Linked DNA regions of Homo sapiens: all the other regions are linked to region 2. The links come from fine-mapping of genetic effects on gene expression. A gene starts in region 2. Each other region holds a variant in brackets. All regions are shown on one strand. Distances are from middle to middle.

Evidence for each region. PIP is the estimated chance that this variant, and not a neighbour inherited with it, causes the effect. A credible set is the group of variants that fine-mapping cannot tell apart.
Region 1: its variant is the best candidate, but not a certain one, in a credible set for the expression of MORN1 in whole blood (TOPMed, PIP 0.60).
Region 3: its variant is the best candidate, but not a certain one, in a credible set for the expression of MORN1 in whole blood (INTERVAL, PIP 0.85).

What each region holds. Positions count from the first base shown.
Region 1 is chr1:2,355,492-2,358,245 of GRCh38, forward strand. It overlaps MORN1 (MORN repeat containing 1), which reads right to left. Exons shown (of 14, transcript NM_024848.3): 10 at 1,941-2,107. Among named protein-coding and RNA genes, the nearest start is that of MORN1, 35 kb to the right of the region's middle. The variant C/T (reference allele first, on the strand shown) is at 1,563.
Region 2 is chr1:2,389,935-2,392,688 of GRCh38, forward strand. It overlaps MORN1 (MORN repeat containing 1), which reads right to left and starts at 1,620. Exons shown (of 14, transcript NM_024848.3): 1 at 1,524-1,620; 2 at 1-62. The coding sequence starts at 1,599. RER1 (retention in endoplasmic reticulum sorting receptor 1) reads left to right here and starts at 1,907. Exons shown (of 7, transcript NM_007033.5): 1 at 1,907-2,024. RefSeq lists silencers at 1,193-1,322, 1,483-1,552, 1,683-1,792, 1,893-2,192 and enhancers at 1,616-1,910, 1,779-2,651.
Region 3 is chr1:2,366,147-2,368,900 of GRCh38, forward strand. All of the region lies in intron 8 of MORN1 (MORN repeat containing 1), which reads right to left. Among named protein-coding and RNA genes, the nearest start is that of MORN1, 24 kb to the right of the region's middle. The variant G/A (reference allele first, on the strand shown) is at 1,051.

The sequences.
Region 1 (2,754 bases), 34 kb before region 2:
AGGCTCTGGGGCTTCTAGCCACCAGCTGGGTGAGGTTTCTGGGGGCAGGGGCACGGGCATGGAGGTGGCCCTGGTGGCGGAGGCTCTTCCCAGGGCGGCCAGGGGCATTCCGCTGCCGCTTTCTCCCACTTCAGCCATGTGAGTCACGGAACCTTAGGGAGAACTCGGGGCCGAGTGACCGGCCAGGAGTGCTGGCCGCTGAGAGGGACTGCTGCAGACAGTGACCAGGAGGGTCACAGGCCACACAGTGCCCGGGAGAAAGGGCCCTGGCACAGCCTGCCAACCACGCCCCTCAGCCCTCAGCCCTGTCTCACTGCAGGAGAGCCCAGAGCTGAGCTGAGCTCACAAGGCAGTGTGGCTGGCCGGGCTGGGGTCTGCGGCACCCTTGGGACAGGCACACCCTGGGCAGGAAGATGTGAGGGAGGCTTTGGGGCCTGCTAGGCTGGCTTAAGGGACAGGAAAGGGGGGTCCAGGCCAAGGCTCACCGGACTCCGGCTTGGGAAGGGGCTGGCCCTGCCTGCTTGCCCCAGGGGCCTGGAGGGTTGGAGTTGGGGGATCACCCCAGTGCGGCAGCCAGGTCGGGGGATTGTGAGGACTCAGGGGCGGCAGGTGGGGCTCAGGTCTAGAGTAGAGAGGCCTTGGCACTTGGGGAGGCGGCGCGACGGCCGCCTGGTGGTGCCATCTGTGCAAATCCTGGGGAGAGGCCTTCAGGGGACTTGGGGCTGCATGTGGTGGGAAGGGCTGGGCAGGGACATGGCAGGGATTGAGCTCGCATCGGCCAAGGCAGGTGACAAGGGCTGGCATATGAGGCGCATTTGGGGATGACCAGGGACGTCTCGTCAAACCTGGGACATTTATCTGCATGTGGAAGGTGGTGGCACACAGCCCACCCCTGCTAAGTTGTGGATCTGGGCTCAGCACAGCCTCTCAGATCTGCCCTGTGCTCCTCAACCCAGGAACCTGCGGCCTGTGTCCTCCCCAAGCAGCACCTCAGGCTCAGATCCCAGCTTTGGGGACCGGGAACCTCAGCTGTCAGCTGGGCCCTCTTCAAAGGCCCCCAAACTCAAAGTGCCAGGCATTTGTCCAGTGGGGACCCCCACGCCCGACCCCCGTTTACTGAGCCTTGGGGTGCAGGGCTGTGGCAAGAAGGACCCGGTGGCCGGCAGCACCCCAGGGCCTCCCAACGCTGTCAAGACTGTTCCCTCAGTCCGGCACTGAGACGCACACTGTGCTGCGCGGGAGGGTTTGAATCGCACACACTGCTCACTGCACAGGAGGGTTTGATGTGCACTGCTCGCTGCACCGGAGGGATTAAGCTTTGATTCAACTCCATGAGTAACTCTGGAATGATCCCTGTGAAGTCTAGGCCGCACATTCTATGGAAGTGCAGTTCTCACTGGCCCCAGCCTTGGGGGGCAGAGTTGGGGGCTGGGGGGTTCTGCCGGAGCACCTGGGCCTCATCTCCACGAAGAAACGTGAGGCAACCCGTGCAGAAGCGGAGCAGCGGGAAACCCTGACCTCGAGAGAGCAGTCGGCGCCGCGGCCCCCAGAGCCATGGCCGG[C/T]GGCTGCTGTGAGGGCTCCCGGGCGGCAGGAGTGGCTGGGGCCGTGTCCAGGCTGGCCACTGGCCTCGAGGCCTGGGTGAGTCTGCTGCCCTCAGCCAAGTAGACCCAGAACTCTGCCCTGAGGACCCCACGAGGCTGCAGCCCCTGCCAGGCTCACGGCAGACGAACAATCGGCTTGAGCCTCCGCAGCCACCCGTGACTGCTTGTCTGGGGATGTGGGCTGCCCGGCCCTGCCTCCTTTCACCCACGCGTGATGACTGACCCTGGGTGCGGCTTGCTCCTGCTCTGGCCTGGTTCTGGGTCCCCATGACCCCACCCCCACCTTGACTGCTGGGCCTGGGCCCACCCACCCCCAACTGGTTTGTGAGCTCCACTTACCAAGCAGGCCACCAGGGGTGTCCTCCTGGCCATGGAGGGCACCCAAATGCAGCTCCAGGTCTCCCCTGGGCAGGGGCACGTCGGCTTCTGCCCCTCCCTTGGCAGCTCTGGGCCCCGGCACCCCAGCTGCGGGGCTGGACACAGGATAAGGGATGCATTCGAACCCACTGCAAAGGAATGGGGGCAGCTTGGCTCTACTCACCCCACACCAAACTAGGGTGCAGGCAGACAGCGTGGCCCACGCCCTGGACCCTGGGACTTGCCTACACTGAGTCCAGGGAGCGCTACTCAGCCTCTCTGGGAGGTCTCCTGCTGGGATGGGGCCAGTTGAGGCCCAGAGAGAAAAAAGACTCGCCAGGGAGAAGACAGCAGGTCTTGGCTTGAAGGAAGAGCTGCCTGCCGCCCCCATTATTATTTATGACAACTCCAGCAGCGTCACCTCTCGGGTGCGTTCTGACTTCACAGTGGGTCCAAGTTTACCCCAAATGTCAGACAGTCCTTAACTCAGGAGAAGGGCCGGTGGGAAAAGGGAGTGTGAGAGCTGTGGCGTCACACTCAGGTCTGGTCGCCTGGGGCACTGCTAAGTTCTGACTGTGAATGGTAAAATGCATGGATTTTCATGTTGCGGGGCTTAGAGTGAGGCCTCTTCCTGGAGTCCTGCAGCTCAGGCCTCTGTTTGCGTGTGGGTTTGTGCACACACTGGCCTGGTCCAGCGTGTTCCTGGGAGGCCTGGTGATGTGTGCGTGGGGAGTGGCGCCCAACTAGGCCTGGCTGGTAAGGGCCACTCCCCTCCTGGCTGCACCAAGAGAGGCCT
Region 2 (2,754 bases):
CCCTGCTTTCCATTCTCCTTCATATCGAAAGAAGGAATTTGGGTATACGTAGACACCATAACCTGAGTATTGAGAAGACACACACAGGTAAGCACAGACACAGAGATGAGGGATGCTCTCCAGTGCTGAAGGAGGGAGTGCAGCTCCCTTGAGGGCCTTCAAGGGGTTGGTACACGTCACCTTCAGCAGACCAGAGGCGACCTGTGGGGCTCATGAGCTCTCCTGTCGACTGTTGGGCCATTCATTTGCTCATTTGTTTATGTGACAAGGATGAGGACCTACTTGGTGCAGAGAAGACAGGCCCAGTAAGAGGAGGGCTGGCTTGAAACAACTGCAGGTCCTTGAGAGACCAGAGGTGCTCGGGAGGTGGTGAGGAGCAGGTTGGGAGCCTTGTTGCAGGAGATGAGTGAGCCAGGGGAAGGCAGAGCGGCAGTGTCAGTGAGGCACACAGGGGAGGAGCAGACTCTCCCATCCCCTGCCGTGGCCCTTCAGTGGCCTCCTATCGCTGGGGAGAAAATCCACACTCATACCCAAGGATGGCCTGGCCGGCTTCATCTCCTCCTAGTTGCTGGGTGTGCCACCCGCCAACTCCTGCAGTTCCAGGAATGGGCAGGGCTCCCTCCCTACCAGCTCCTCAGGCACATTTTGTGGGCAGGGTTTATGGGAAAATGTCGGGGAGGAGGGCAGGGGGTTACTACAGGCTACTGTATCTGTCCCAAATCAGGGTCAGGTTCTACCTGAAGATAGTAGTGTTAGCTCTGAGTTCATTCCAGACCCGTTTATTTGATTCTAGAAACAGTTCCTATCAAAACCTGCTCTTTTTTTTTTTTTTGAGACTGAGTCTTGCTCTGTCGCCCAGGCTGGGGTGCAGCGGCGCGATCTCGGCTCTCTGCAACCTCCGCTTCCTGGGTTCAAGCGATTCTCCTGCCTCAGCCTCCCGAGTAGCTGGAACTACAGGAGGCACCACCCCGGGCCAATTTTTGTATTTTTTAGTAGAGACCGGGTTTCGCCATGTTGGCCACACTGGTCTCGAACTCCTGACCTCAGGTGATCCACCCGCCTCGGCCTCCCAAAGTGCTGGAAGTACAGGCAAAAACTGCTTTTGAAACGCGTCCTAGCGTTTCTGGACAGCACCGGCCAGGAAGTCAGGAGGCTTGGTGCTGCTCCTGCGCCTGCCCTCGCCCCAAGTCCTGGGCTTCGGGATCCCCATGGCAACCCCAGGTCCCGCTGGCTGTGAGGCTGCGGCCGGAACCCGGTCTTCCCGGCTAGGAGCCCGCGGGGGGCGACCCCCTGCAGGGCTTGGCCTGCTGCGGGAGGAGGGCTCGGGGAAGGGTGCGAGCCGAGCCCGAGGCGCACGGCGAGTCCTGTGGGAGTGGGGGACGCGGGGGCGGCCCTGGCTCCGCCGCGGCACCTGGACCTCTACTTTCCGAGGTGAGCATTTGGGGGTCGAGGGCGTAGAGCGATCGCACCCTGAATGGAGCCCAGGGCAGCCAGCGACCTGTCCCGTGGCCCGCAGTCGTTACCGTTCCGGGGCGGCCGCCTAGGCGGGTCCCGACGCGGCCCGCGGGAGCTCGGGGTGCCCTCGCCCGCCGCTGCCATCTTGCCGCCGAGGGTTCTCTTAGCGACCAGCAACGCCCGCTTCCATTGGTCTTTGTCGCAAGGGGGGGTGTGGCCACGGGCCTAGTCCCTGAGCCCGCGCAATCTCTGGAGCGAAGCTAGCCGGGCCCGGAGCCAGAGGACGCAGCTGCGCCTGTGCGCGTTTCCGCCGCTGTCGTCTCTTCCGCCGGGAGGCCCGCCCGCCAACGGCCTGCGCGTCTGCGCCGGAAGCGGAAATGGTTGGAGCCCTTGGCCCCGCCCTCGCGCCATCTTGGGGGCCCTGGAGGCGGCGCCGCGGAGGACGGAGCGGAAGTGCTCGCTGCAGCTTCCCGGAGCCGGAGCGCAGCGCCTGCGGCCGCCCGTGCCCCGCCGTCCTCCTTCCCGCGGCCGTGAGGGAGACCGCGGCTCGGCCGTAGCGGAGCTGCGAGGTGCCAGGAAGGGCTGCGTGGCGCGGGAACGGCCGGGCAGCGCCGCCTCCGCTTCTTCCGGGCTGTCAAGGCCGCGGGCGGGCGGGGCCGCGCTGAGGGCCGGGCGGGGAGGGCCGTCGGGGCCCGGGTGGCCGCGGGGACCGTGTTCCCGACCCGCGGCCCTGAGGGGTACGGGTCGCGCCTCGGGGTCGGGCCCGGGACGGGGTGCTGGGGGGTGCGGCGGAGCCCTGGGGCCTGCGAGGGTCGGGGGAGCGGGAGAGGGGCCGGGCGGGGGCTGCAGCCCTCGAGCCACCCGGGCCGCATCTCGTCCGCATCCCCTGCTTGGCATCTGGGGGAAGCGGGCAGTCGCGGCCCCCACAGCGCTGCGAGTTGGGCTGTATTCCAGAGTAATGTGCCCTGTCCCCATCCTGCGTCCAGGTCAGCGCTTATCTGTAGGATTTAGTGTTAAGCTCTGGGGTGAAGGCGTTACTGACGGGCTGAAGGGAAACTAGTTACATCGGTTTTGATCGTATTCTAAATAGGCAATAAAATCATAAATTCTCCAGGCTGACTTAGTACTGGTCTGTGGCCCCACTGATAAAGGTATCGTTCGTTTCTCTGCCAGGTGTCTCACAGCACAGAGGGCTGCTTTCAGCCTAAGTACCTTCAGTGGGCTTTTGCCCTTTTCCCTTTATGAAGAGTAGAGACTGGCCGCTAGTCCTGGAAGCACTTTATTTTTAGTTGAGTTGAC
Region 3 (2,754 bases), 24 kb before region 2:
ATAAAAAATGATGAGTTCGTGTCCTTTGTAGGGACATGGATGAAATTCGAAATCATCATTCTCAGTAAACTATCGCAAGAACAAAAAACCAAACACCGCATATTCTCACTCATAGGTGGGAATTGAACAATGAGAACACATGGACACAGGAAGGGGAACATCACACTCTGGGGACTGTTGTGGGGTGGGGGGAGGTGGGAGGGATAGCTTTAGGAGATATACTTAATGCTAAATGACCAGTTAATGGTTGCAGTACACCAACATGGCACATGTATACATATGTAACTAACCTGCACATTGTGCACAGGTACCTAAAACTTTAAGTATAATAATAATAAAATTAAAAAAAAAATAAAAGCAGAAATAGGCAAATCTTTTGTTTGTTTGCTTGTTTTGAGACAGGATCTTGCTCTGTCACCCAGGCTGTAGTACAGTGGTGCGATCTCAGCTCACTGCAACCTCCGCCTCCCAGGTTCAAGCAATTCTCCTGCCTCAGCCTCCCAAGTAGCTGGGATTACAGGTGTGAACCACCATGCCTGGCTAATTTTTGTATTTTTAGTAGAGATTTTAGTAGAGATGGGGCTTCACCATGTTGGCCAGGCTGGTCTCAAACTCCTGACTTCAAGTGATGTGCTCGCCTCAGCCTCTCAAAATGCTAGGATGACAGGTATGAGGCACTGCACCCAGCAAGGCAAATCTATCATAGTCAGATATTTCAATATGCTACTCTCAATAACTGATAAAACAAGCAGACAGAAAATCAGCAAGGACATAGTATACATACATACACAGAATATCAATAATATCAACAAAATACATAGAAAAATACATAGAAAAATACATAGAAAAACACATAGAAAAATACATAGAAAAATACGTAGAAAAACAATAATATCAACAAAATTGACCTGATTTATAAAATATTGTACACAACAAAATTCACATTCTTCTCAAGTGCACACAAACTCTTCCCGAAAATTGAAGAGAGAATTTTTCCCAATTCACTCATTCTATGAGGACAGCATTACCTTGATAGCAAAACTAGACAAA[G/A]ACATTACAAGAAAAGAAAATTTCATGCCAATATCCTTCACGAACAGGGATGCAGAAATTCCCAAAAAAACTTTAGCAAACTGAAGGACAAGATAATTCATTGCTCTATCAAAAAAAAAAAAAAAAAAGAAAAAGAAAAAAGGCCAGGCTTGGTGGCTTATGCCTGTGATCCCAGTATTTTGGGAGACTGAGGTGGGAGGATCGCTTGAGCCTGGGAGTTTGAGACCAGCCTGGGCAACATAGTGAGATTCTGTCTCTACAAAAAAAAAAATTACAAAAACAAACAAAAAGATAATTGGGGAAAGAATACTCTTTTTAACAAATGATCTTAAGACAAATAGATACCCACATTCAAAGGAATATACAGCAGTTGGACCCCTTCCTTACACCAAACAAAAAGATTAATACCGAACGGTTCACAGTCCTAAATGTAAGAGCTAAAAATATGTCATTTTTTTTTGAGATGGAGTCTTGCTCTGGGGTGCAGTGGCGTGATCTCGGCTCACTGCAACCTCTGCCTCCTGGGTTCAAGCAATTCTCCCTGCCTCAGCCTCTCAAGTAGCTGGGACTACAGGCACCCGCCACTATGCCCAGCTAGTTTTCGTATTTTTTAGTGGTGACAGGGTTTTGCCACGTTGGCCAGGCTGGTCTTGAACTCCTGACCTCAGGTGATCCACCTGCCTTGGCCTCTCAAAGTGCTGGGATTACAGGCGTGAGCCACCGTGCCTGGCCTAAAAATATAAAATTCTTAAAAGAAAACACAGGAGTAAATCTCCATGACTCCAGACTAAGCAAAGTCTTCATAGATATGACATCAAAAGCAACAAAAAGAAAAAGAGAGAATTGGGTTTCATCGAAACTTAAAACTTTTGTGTTTCAAAGGACACCAGCAAGAAACTGTCTGACTGCCCACAAAATGGAAAAATGTATTTGCAAATTAGATATCTGATAAGGGGCTTGTGTCTAGAATATGTCAAGAACTCTTACGACATCTTGATGCAGAGCAGGTGAGCTCTACAGCAGGGCTTAGCCTGTGAGGGTTCTTGGCTTTGGCCAGGGAAGGATTTAAGGGTGAATGGGAGGTATGGAAGCGGCAGGGCTACAGCTCCTGCAGAGCGGGGCTGCCCCCCAGGCAGAAAGCAGCAGCTCAGGGCAGTGTCGCAGTCATATTTATACCCACTTTTAACTGCGTGCAGATCAAGGGGTGGTTTATGTGGACATTTCTAGGGAAGCGGCAGTAACTTTTGGGTCATCAGGCCATTGCCATGGAAAGGGGTGGTAACTCCCAGGTGTTGCCATGGTGATGGTAAACTGGCATGATGCGTTGGTGGGCGTGTCTTATGGAAGGCTGCTTCCTCCCTGACCCTGTTTTATCTAGTCCTCAATTTGGTCTTGTGTCTGAGCCCCACTTCTGGAGTCAAGTTCTGCCTCTTATCTCCATTTCTCCAACTAAGATCTACAAATGGCCCATAGCACACAAAAAGATGCTCAACATCATTAGCCTTTAGGGAAATGTAAATCCAAACCACAAGAAGGCACCACTTCACACCCACAAAGATGGCTACATCCAAAAGACAGACAGGCCAGCACGGTGGCTCATGCTTGTAATCCCAGCACTTTGGGAGGCTGAGGCGGGTGGATCACAAGGTCAGAAGATGGAGACCATTCTGGCCAACATGGTGAAACCCTGTCTCTACTAAAAAT